Regions from separate parts of the Homo sapiens genome. Here region 2 is linked to region 1. Evidence: fine-mapped expression QTL. A gene starts in region 1. The other region holds a variant in brackets. All regions are shown on one strand. Distances are between the middles of the regions.

What was found. PIP is the estimated chance that this variant, and not a neighbour inherited with it, causes the effect. A credible set is the group of variants that fine-mapping cannot tell apart.
Region 2: its variant is the best candidate, but not a certain one, in a credible set for the expression of LINC02656 in whole blood (TOPMed, PIP 0.78).

The regions. Positions count from the first base shown.
Region 1 is chr10:6,347,088-6,352,401 of GRCh38, reverse strand. It overlaps LINC02656 (long intergenic non-protein coding RNA 2656), which reads right to left and starts at 2,086. Exons shown (of 1, transcript NR_148966.1): 1 at 1-2,086. RefSeq lists a cis regulatory region at 3,892-4,392.
Region 2 is chr10:6,227,120-6,232,490 of GRCh38, reverse strand. All of the region lies in intron 14 of PFKFB3 (6-phosphofructo-2-kinase/fructose-2,6-biphosphatase 3), which reads right to left. Among named protein-coding and RNA genes, the nearest start is that of PFKFB3, 27 kb to the right of the region's middle. The variant C/T (reference allele first, on the strand shown) is at 2,308.

The sequences.
Region 1 (5,314 bases):
AAATGTATATTTGTATTTACCTCTGATAATTTCTCAAAAGTCTTCTTAGTTTGAGCACTAACATTGATTCTCTAGTTATGCTTGCTACACAGAATACAGGGCATCTATTTATCTGAAAATATTCATTATCCCATATTGTACTAGAGCCATATCCATTCTTTATCTGACACATCTGAAATTAGTTGTTATTTATCTGAAATTCAAATTTAATTTGATGTACCACATTTTAATTTGAGAAATCAGACAAACCTAGTTCTTAACATACCACCTTCACAAGACAGCCTGGCTAGAATACTCCACTGGTCTCTGAGCAAAAGCCTAATCCCCTTAAAGAGTCTAAGCCCATTAACCTATAGCAGCCAAACTGAGTGCTGTAAACAACCTCTATTTTTGAGCTCCTGATCTTCTCCATTAGTCAAGACAAATTAGAAAAACAATAAGAAAGAGAACAACCCATCATGACAATGGAAGAACCAGGCCATGATCTTTCCAAGCACAAACTGCAGCATTTTAGCATCTTCCCAGCACTGCTTCCCTGTCTATCCCTACCTGTCCTCCCCTGCCTCTGACATTAGTCATCATGATGCCTTCCTGCTTCTCCAAGGGACTCAGGATCTGATCCTTGCCTCCCCATCCAACCACCTGCCTGCCTGCCTGTCTCCCTCTCTGCACTCCAGCCAGCTTGCATGTCTCTTCGTTCCTCCCCTGCACCAGGCTCCTTCTTGCCACAGGATCTTTGCACATGCTCTGGCTTCTGCTTGGAAAGCCTTCTCTGTCTCCTCCTCCCTCCTCCCATTCCTTGGTTAACTCTTAGTCATCCATCATCACAGCTGCAAAGTCACTTCCCTAGGGAAGCTGTCCCTTTTTGCAGGCTGGTCAGCTTCCTCGGATCTAAGCTGTTAAAAGTTCTGTGTATTTTCCCTTCTCTACACTTACCATAGTTGACATTTTATTTTTGCTCTGGGATTATTTGGTTAATGTGCTAGAATCAAAACTCCAGAAGGGCCAGAACACTATGGCTTTTTTTGTTATCACTATGTTCCCAGCACTCAGCAAAAGAAAAATAAAAAACCAGACCCTCATTGTCACCTAATGGTGGTACTGTAATTCTCTCATTCCTTCCAAATGTATCAGCTGAATTTTTCAATAAAGAAGACATTTCCCTTATCAGCTCTTCCGTAACTGTGAGGTACAGTTTATACAAGAAAAGCAGAATAAATGCTTGAATTTTCCCCTTCTATTTACCAGTTTTCAGAATAATCAGAGGTGACAGACTCCTCCAAAGGTAACAAATGAGTTTGGTTTTACCGTTTTGAGTATTATGAATTCATGGATGTATACATGTTGATGTGTTTCAGTCCACTAAAGTCATTATTCTTTGGGATGCTCAAATTGTCTCATTGTTGGCCAGTAGAAGCCTGGGCCCTTTTGCCATGACCTCAGTTGTCTTTAATAGCTGTCCGGCTTGTATGACAAGACATTCTTGGATCCCCTTGTACAGCTCCTGACACCAATCTGGTTCAGCTATTTCTTCAAGAAGGCCTGGTTCCTTGTACATTCTTATTCACCTGTGGTTTCAATTCCCTAGTCTCTAAAAGAAACACTACAAATAGAAATTCTGTTCTGATTTTTCTCCTGTACAGCGGACCTGTATACCTAACAGATGACTGGGCATTGCCATCTCTGCCCACAACACACATCCTGAATTTGACTTGTTTGCACATGAAGTCATCATCCCTCCCCAAGATGGGCTCTCTATTATGCCTTCCTTGGGGATCAGTACTTGGAGTCGGGTCAGGGCAAGATACTGTTAGTGACATGTGGAATTCAGCCACACCATCATGAGAAGGTCCTCTCTGTGTGTTCTGGCTAAACCAGCCTTCTACCAGGTTAGCACGATTCTGGGCTTTGCAACATTCATGACCTGTTTGAGGGCACTGAAGGAGATGCTCAGCCACATCCCTTAATTTGCATGAGCCTGTAGGAAAAATATGTTTAAGAAGTCTGGCTGTCTGAGCAGGCCAAAGGAGAAGATGGAAGAGAAGGTGGTTTCCTGAAAGCATGAAGCTGTATCTGTTCATATTTTGACACCATCCCAGGAAGAAGAGGCTGAGGTAGGAAAGTACAGTCAGCTCTGGGAGTTCCCTCTGGAGAAGCTGGCTATGAGACGTGGAAGAAGCTCCCCAGCTGCAGTAGAAGGCACGAGAAGGTTTCAGGCTTTCCAGGTGGGCGTAGAATGGGCAGCAGCACAGGCATAACCTGGAGTGGCACAGGTGCCAGGGAAGAGGGCAGACGCCATGCGTGACATAGCAAGGGGATCACACCGCATCCATTGTGCATGAGACCACTTTTCACCACCCAGGCGACTCAAGGAGATAACTGGATGGGTGGTTCCAGGAAAAGAATGGACATCCTGCTAGGCCATCATATGCTGTCTCAGAGCACTGAGGTTTGATAAATGTGGTGAATTTGGAGGCACTCACAGCTGAGTCCCAGCACAGAGTGGGCACATAAGCAACACCATTTTCTCATTGCCCAAGCCAGCCCCTGCCCACAGCACCTCCACTTCCCAGAGCCACACCCAATCAATGGCCAACTTATGATTCTAATCTTGAATGTCTGTCGAGATCTTTTCCTTCTCCATCACTAAGCTCTCTCCTTTAAGTAAAAATTTTTCTCCTGGAGGAATGCCTCCTGGCTGATGCTTCTGCAAATCACCTCACTTCTCTTCAAGCCCTCCTCTGTTACAGACTATTCCAAATTTTTTTTTGTTTTTTTGTTTTTTTGTTTTTAACTTTTGCCTACCTTGTCGGCTCACGCCTGTAATCCCAGCACTTTGGGAAGCCGAGGTGGGTGGATCACCTGAGGTCAGGGGCTCTAGACCAGCCTGGCCAACATGGTGAAACCCTAGCTCTACTAAAAATTCAAAAATAAGCCGGGTGTGGTGGTGGGTGCCCGTAATCCCAGCTACTCAGGAGGCTGAGGCAGGAGAATCGCTTGAACCCAGGAGGCGGAGGTTGCAGTGAGCCAAGATCGAGCCACCGCACTCCAGCCTGGGTGACAGAGTGAAACTCCATCTTAAAAAAAAAAAAAAAAAATGCCTACCTAAATCTAACGTAAAACTTTGAGCTCACTCTGAAATATATTCATATTTACTTACAAGGGGAAAATGCCCTATGAACTGAAAATTATGTGTATTTTAGAACATACACAAAAGAGAAGTTAAAAGAAAATGAGAAAAATAAATAGATGTGATAATACTTTATTTCATTACTCCGATTAATAGTCTTACCAAACTCACCCGAAGACTGCCTGCAAAGTTCTTGAAGGAGCTTGGGATTGTAGGTGCTTTTGATGTTTTATTCAGACTGGACTAGATGCTTTAACCCTGAAGGTGCATCTTACGTATCTAAAAAAGACTTCCCTTAGGGCTAAACATAACAGAAAAGTGATGAATGAAGGAATCTGTCCAACATGTCATCTTTGATTGAAGATAAATACATTCATCTTATGGTTCTAGCTCTATTAAATTGAGTCTGTTTAATACACCCTGTCTGCAGCTAAACTAATTATTTCAGGCTGGATTTTCAATTTCTTACCTAGCCCTAGGATAAAACACAGAGTTGAATGGTTACGTAATCACCAGGTGCCGCTCAAGTGGTGATTTTTCAAATCAAGTATGGATCTCAAAGAAGAGAAGCAAATAACAACAGAGATACTTCTTGTGCTAGGGCCCTGGTTGCAGGACGGTGTCCCACCAGGCTACAGCTCTTAAATGGCAGAGCTGCTGCTGACACCTCTGTCGTTCTTGCAAGATCAAATACCAACTGCGTTGACTTCAAATCTGGCTTAAAAATAGGCCTAGCAGGCATAGTTTTCTCATCAAAACAAATTAGCCTAAAAAATAGCATTCCGAGAGACCAAGGGTTAGGAAAATTGTCCTGTGAGTGTTTTGAATTCTTTGTCACCCTTCATAACTGGTGCCGTTCATGAGGGAGCTTATTGGCTTGGGGGATGACAACTTGAACAGCAAAACAGGATGTGTCACCACCAGGCCCCCTGCTCTGCTGCAATCTACGAGAATTAATCAGTTTTGGGTTTTTTTGTTGGTGGTGACGGTGGTTTTTTTCCTTTCTTTCTTCCTTTTTTATGTCAGCGTCTCAGATGGGCACACACTGAAACAGCTTCTTATTTGCATGCGGTGTGGCCTGGCGAGGGTGAACTGAGGACACGCAGAGCTCCCTCTGACTTGGCACCGGCAGGAAGTCGGCGGCAAGAAGCTACCACTTTTCAAGCCTGGGTGGCTTTTTCTTTTTTCTCTGTCATTCATTTTGGAAGAAAGCATAAGTTTGATTTCAAACAGAACACAAAAACTTGGAAGGAGGGCCAAACACAGGCAGGCAGATGATTCTTGTCCCCACTTTTACTTTTTTAAAATTTAATTGGAGATGCTGCAGAGGTGGCAGAAAGGGGCCAGAGGATGGTAGGTGCAGACTCGCTGCGGTGACAATGCCCCGGGCATCCCCTTTCTGCACAGTGGGGCACGGCATCCAGGGGCAGCCTCCTCTCCAGACACCTGGGCAAATCCAAATCTGTGTTTCTTTGTCATTCACCTGAGGAGAAGTCCCTTATTCCAACGACCACTCCCGTGTGAGCGGTGACAGGTTTGAGCAGAATGAGTCAACGCTGAAATGATGCCTGTGCCATTTCACAGGAATTTGCTTCTTTCTCGCTGGTTTTCAGATGCAGTTCGAGGCTTCCGTTTTTTTCTCTGGATTTGAATCTCGTCCACAGATCACTGCTGCCTTGCAGCTGAGTGTGTCATTTGCAGCCCTGCTGTCTGGGGCCCGAGACTCCACACAAGATGTGCTCAGAGAAGCAAATGAACAACTCTGCTCTGATAGGGGCAGCAAAGAGGCAAGCAGCTACCAACAGAAGGACACTGAGTTTCTGGGGGTGGCATCTGGCCAAGGTTCCTGTCATCTCTCTCAGATAAAACACCAAATTCTTCCCCAACAGAAGCAGCAAAAACATATAATATAGGCCAGCGCAGCGGCTCACACCAGTAACTTATGCCTTGGGAGGCTGACGGGGGAGGATCACTTGAGGCCAGGAGTTGGAAACAAGACTGGGCAGTATAGCAATATCCTGTCTCTACAACAAAATTTTAAAAATTAGCTGGGCATGGTGTTGCATGCCTGTAGTCCCAGCTACTTGGAAGGCTGAGGTGGGAGGATCACTTGGGCCCAGGAGGTCAAGGCTGCAGTGAGCCATGATTGCACTACTGCATTCCAGCCTGGGTGACAGCGAGACC
Region 2 (5,371 bases), 120 kb after region 1:
CTCGACTCAGCTCAAAACAGAGCCACACTCCCAGCTCCTGCATCCAGATTCTGGGAACAGAGCTTGACAGGCAGAACACAGGTGATACATGGAATGGCTGGACGTGGTGGGGAGGCCCAGGTGGGGAGCCAGGCAGAGGGGTGTTGTTAAAGCCCTGCCCCACTTCTGATCACAGTGGCCCTCGCAGGGAGTTCCACCCCTAAGGCACTGGCCAGTACCAAACCCCCCCGCCACCCACCCCCCGCAAAAAAACATGCTCCAAAATCAGCGAGGAACACAACTGACTGCAGCCACTGCACAGCGGGCCTCCTTCCGTGACCTGCTTCACCTACGCCTCAAAAAACAAGAAAACACACAATGTTTAAAACTATTCTCTCCAGTCCTGAGTGTCTCCACCTGGACTGCTCTAAAGAGGGTGGGAGAGAGCCCAGGCACACAGGGCCACCGTGGCCCATGCCCACCCCACACAGAACTGGGGGTCCAAGGCTGGAGCCATCCACAGGGAGGAAAGTCACGGGGCTGGGCAGCATCAGAGCTATCGCCCAGGCGTGGGCCAGACTCAGGAACCCAGGTGATGGGTGCCCACCGGGAGGTGATGGGTGCCCGCCGAGAGGTGATGGGTGCCCGCCAGGAGGTGATGGGTGCCCACCGGGAGGTGATGAGTGCCCACCAGGAGGTGATAGGTGCCTGCCAGGGGATGACGGCTGCCTGCGGGGGTTGATGGGTGCCCGCCGAAGGATGATGGAAGTGATGGGTGCCCACTGGGAGGGGGCAATTCTCTTCAGAGAGCCCTGGGTCCTCATATCTAGGGAGAGCCCCAGCCGGGCTGTGGGATCACAGAGCAGGGCTGACATTTCCCTCCGCATCTGCTGGCTCCAACCTGTCCTCAACACCACCAGCCCACAGCTTCCGGCACCCACAGGTGATGGCGATGCAACAATAACAGTGGAGAGCCTGCAAGACCGGGTGATGTCCACGTCCTTCACCCAGGGGCCCCAGCTCAGGACACGTGGGGGGTGAGAGACAGACTAGAAAGGACCTCACGACAATGGTGTTGCACTTAACAACCTCGGCATGGAGACAGATGAGCCCCGCATTGCACGATGGCCAGTCTGCACACAGACCCAGATGCCGTGACGCGGTGCGGGACAGAGGGACATGCACCCAGGCATTTACCTTCCACAGTTAGTAAGGAGAAAACTTTGAGAAAATGTGACAGACAGTTCGTCTTTCAAGCAGAGTGGGGGAGAGGAAGAAACAGGTTGGAAAAGGAAAAAAAAAAAGAAAATCTTTAGTAGGATTTTCTAGTGTGCATTTGAAATTTTAAAAATGAAGGTTGCATCACAAATGCCAGGTGATCTCTCGATCCCAAGCAGCCGGCACAGCCCCCAGGAAGGCACCCCAGAGCACCAGGTCCGGACAGTTGTTCGTCCCCATCTTACTGGGAAACCAAGATCACAGGGGTGAAGACTCTAGGCTGGGCGTGGTGGCTCACATCTGTAATCCCAGCACTTTGGGAGGCCAAGGCGGGTGGATCACCTGAGGTCAGGAGTTTGAGACGAGCCTGGCCAACATGGTGAAACCCCATCTCTACTAAAAATACAAACATTAGCCGGGCATGGTGGCGGGCGCCTGTAATCCCAGCTACTCGGGAGGTTGAGGCAGGAGAATCGCTTGAACCCGGGAGAAGGAGGTTGCAGTGAGCCAAGATCGCGCCACTGCACTCCAGCCTGGGCAACAAGAGCAGAATTCCATCTCAAAAAAAAAAAAAGACTTCAGGCCATGGCCTTGAGACCCCAGGGATTTCCCCTCCCCAAGTCTGGGTGTTCCTGCTGCCCCAGAGAAGAAATCCCTCAGGTTACAGGAGGGTATCCAAAGGCTGACCCAATGCCAGCAAGCCCAGAAGTCTCCACAGGCCCAGGGCACCAAGTTCCTCCCTGATAACAACAGCAGCCGTCATCCCCCACGCACTTCCTAGGGGCCAGATATTGTGCTAAGTGCTGTATCTATAGTCTCATTATGACAACTTTATGAAGTTATTATCTCCATATTACAGATGAGGAAGCTGAGGTCCTAGAATTGCTTTAACTTGCCCAGAGTGCCAAGGATAGAGGCCAGGAGGAGTAGAACCAAGATGCAGGCCTGGCTTGGTCTGACTTTCATCATAAATTCTGGTCACAGAGCCCAGGTGGACTCCTAGAATCAGATGTGGCTACAATCCTAGATGTGGGGTCACGCACCCAGGATGGACGGGACAATGGGACTCCAGAGTGAAATTCCAACCTGAGTCAGGTGTGATGGGTCCAT[C/T]GGATGTATTTTTGCTGAACAGGAGGGATTCTAGCAAACGCACTATTATGTTCATCTTGGAGATAGGTAAGATCAGCTTTAGCGGGTGGGGGACTATCCCCGAATGGCTCCTCCCAGTAGAAAGATTTCTTTCCTGGCAACATGAGGCCACGTGTCTAACGCAGGGGTCCCTAACCCCTGGGCTGTGGACCAGTACCCAGTCCATAGCCCACTGAGAGGCGGGCCACACAGCAGGAGGTGGGTGGTGGGTGGGCCAACATTACCACCTGACTCGGAGGAGCACACACGAGGGATCTAGGCTGTGCGTTCCCTTCAGAGAATCTAATGCCAGACGATCTGAGGCAGAACAGTTTTATCCCCAAACCATCCCCTACCCTGCCATGGTGGGGAAAATTCTCTTCCACGAAACGGGTCCCTGGTACCAAAAAGGTCGGGGACTGCTGGTCTAAAGGATCAGGACATGCACAGATGTAAAACCTTCAGGCTCCAAGTCCAAAAAGTTTCACACAAGGAGAAGCCCAGATCCTGAAGCACTGCACGCTGGCCCCGCGCATCACAGACACTGGCCCTGAGGATGGAGGGTGCGCCCCAAGAAGCTGGAAGTTAAGGGCAGGCCCACCTTAGGTAAGCAAAGCCTGGCTGTGGGAAGCAGCTGCAAGGGGGTGGCTGTGGGGGTACACGAGGGTCCAACAGCTGCCCATGCCTTGCGGGTCACAGGGCAGGGGCCTCAGGACAGCAGCAGGGAACGGGCACCCAGCCCACTCCCAGAAGCCGCAGAGAGGAGGCGGCCGGCTTTCTGAAGCAAGGGGCCTTTCAGGCCCCGGCTCTGCGGCTCACCTGCTGGAAGCACGGGCCGGTCACTCAGCCCCTCAACCATTAAACGGGGGACTGACTGCCCTGCCGACCTCCCAGGGTGGTCTTAAGGAACGTGGACATGGAGGACACTGGTACATCCTCTGGCCCTTCACCCCTTTGCCACCAAAATCTGAGCGCCATGCCAAACCTCTCCCATTTCCAAAGCCAGTCATTCTTTTCAGCATCTCAGGCTGCATTCCTCATCACACCTTTCCAGTTTCTGCATAAAGTAGTTAAGGTAACTTAAGGAGCAAACAGGAAATAAAGGGGCGGGTGTGTTTTTGGGGGGGCAAGGGGATGACACTTCATGTGGCTGTCATTAAAGTTCTGTGGCAGGAAGGCCTCTGCTCCTGGTGGGGAAGGGATCCCAGAGCAGTGGGAACACAGCCCCAGCTACCCAGTGGCTGCCAGAGCTAAGGCTGAACCTGAAACTCTGCAGAGAGCTCTGGGAGGAGCAGAAGTGACCACATGGGTTAGAGATGGAGGCTGCACCCAGCCCCGGGCGTGACTATGACGCTGAGCAGGCTCCAACCCAGGACAAACGGATCCCCAAGGGTCTCCACTCGGAGCTCTTTTGGGGTGTGGGGGGTCCTCATGGGGAGGGAGAGGCTCAGAGCTCAGGCCCCACCACACTCCCACTATTCCCCATAGGTTTGGTTTACAGATTAGGCTCTGAGTAAGTTTTCCTTCCAAAACAAAGGACACTCCTGGGGCAGGAGGGGGCTTTAAGGCTAATGGCACCTGGCACAGATGCAGCTCGCCACCAAGATCTGATTCTGATAAGGAAATGTGGATTTATGCCGAGCCCTAAACCACGGCCATTACACACCACGACCTGCAGCCCTGAGAGGGTAGGGGAGAAGCCAGCGGTCGTGCGGCGGTGTCGGAACACACCCAACAGTAGTGCAGCCACCATGACCGCCTGCACGCTTTTCCAAAAACATTCAGGAATCTCTCCTCCCTACTCCTACGCCCATCTCCTCCTTCCCCCACGGAAGACCTCACATCACAAAACTGCTCTCATCCTCAATATTTTAACAGGCAGGAGGCCAAATGAGCAAGCAGGAAGAAAGCAGTGCAAGCAGCAGCGATGATCGGAGAGATACTTACAGACAGGCTTGCCCTAGCAAAGGCTGCGGAGGAGAAGCAGAGAGAGAAGTCAGTCAGGAGGCAGGGCGCAATCTGCAGGGACGAAGCCCTGAAAAACCCCACGCCGGCCCAGCCAGCAGCTTCAGACGTCCCTAAGAACCTGGCCACCCTGAAGGACTGTCCTCCCAACGCCAGGGGCAGCTCTGAAGCGGACAGGAGGATGCAGCCCCTGCCACTGCGTCCTCCACGACGGAGGTCTGTGCAGCTCAGGATATCAACCCCCTTCCCCAGCCTGGTCCCCCCAAGCATCAAAGCAGCGGCCTCTGAACTTCCAAATACAACTGCACATTTCCATCAGAACGGATGCCACAGGGACACCATTTCAGTTCTGCTGGCTTTTCATAAAAACCCTCAGATCTGAGACCTGCAAGGGAATATGTATGAGAGCTCTCCCAGTCCTGCTCCTATCATGTGCAAAGCTAAGGAGACTGAGGGCCTGGGAGGGGAAGGAACCTGGGCAATTAAATTGCTGCACTCATGTTAGTGTGGAGCTACCACCAAAGCCAGGCCTCCAGGCTTCCGCTAATCACAGCCACCTCACCGTGTCTACGCGTCCCCACCACATGCCCGACACTGGGCCTGATGCAGGGCATGAATCCCCTCATCTGATCTGACTTCTGCACTGCCATTATTCCCCCATTGCCTGGATGAAAAAACTGAGGCCTGGAGAGGTTAAGTGACCTGTGGAGGCTGCAGCATCTCCCAGGTCACATTCCAGACATCATGAGGTCTAAGGAAGTCTCGGAAAAGGCGGGAAGAGGTGGCAGGCTGAAAAGGATGCTCAGAGCCAGCACCAGCATCCGGCTCATCAACAAACCTGACCGGAAGCTGCACTGGGCTGATTTGTGGGGGCAGGCCTGGAGGGTGGAGGTAGGGCAGACCCTTGGGTGGTACCTGAATTTAAGCACAGAAATTCCTACATCTCACATATTTGCAAGGGTTCCAGGCTGTAAAGGAAAAGACCAGTTTTCTGAAAACAAACAGTTTTCTGAAAACAAATCTTAATGTCTGACAACCAAAATCTTCCAGGCCTGTAACCTTCAAAATTAATGAAATAAGT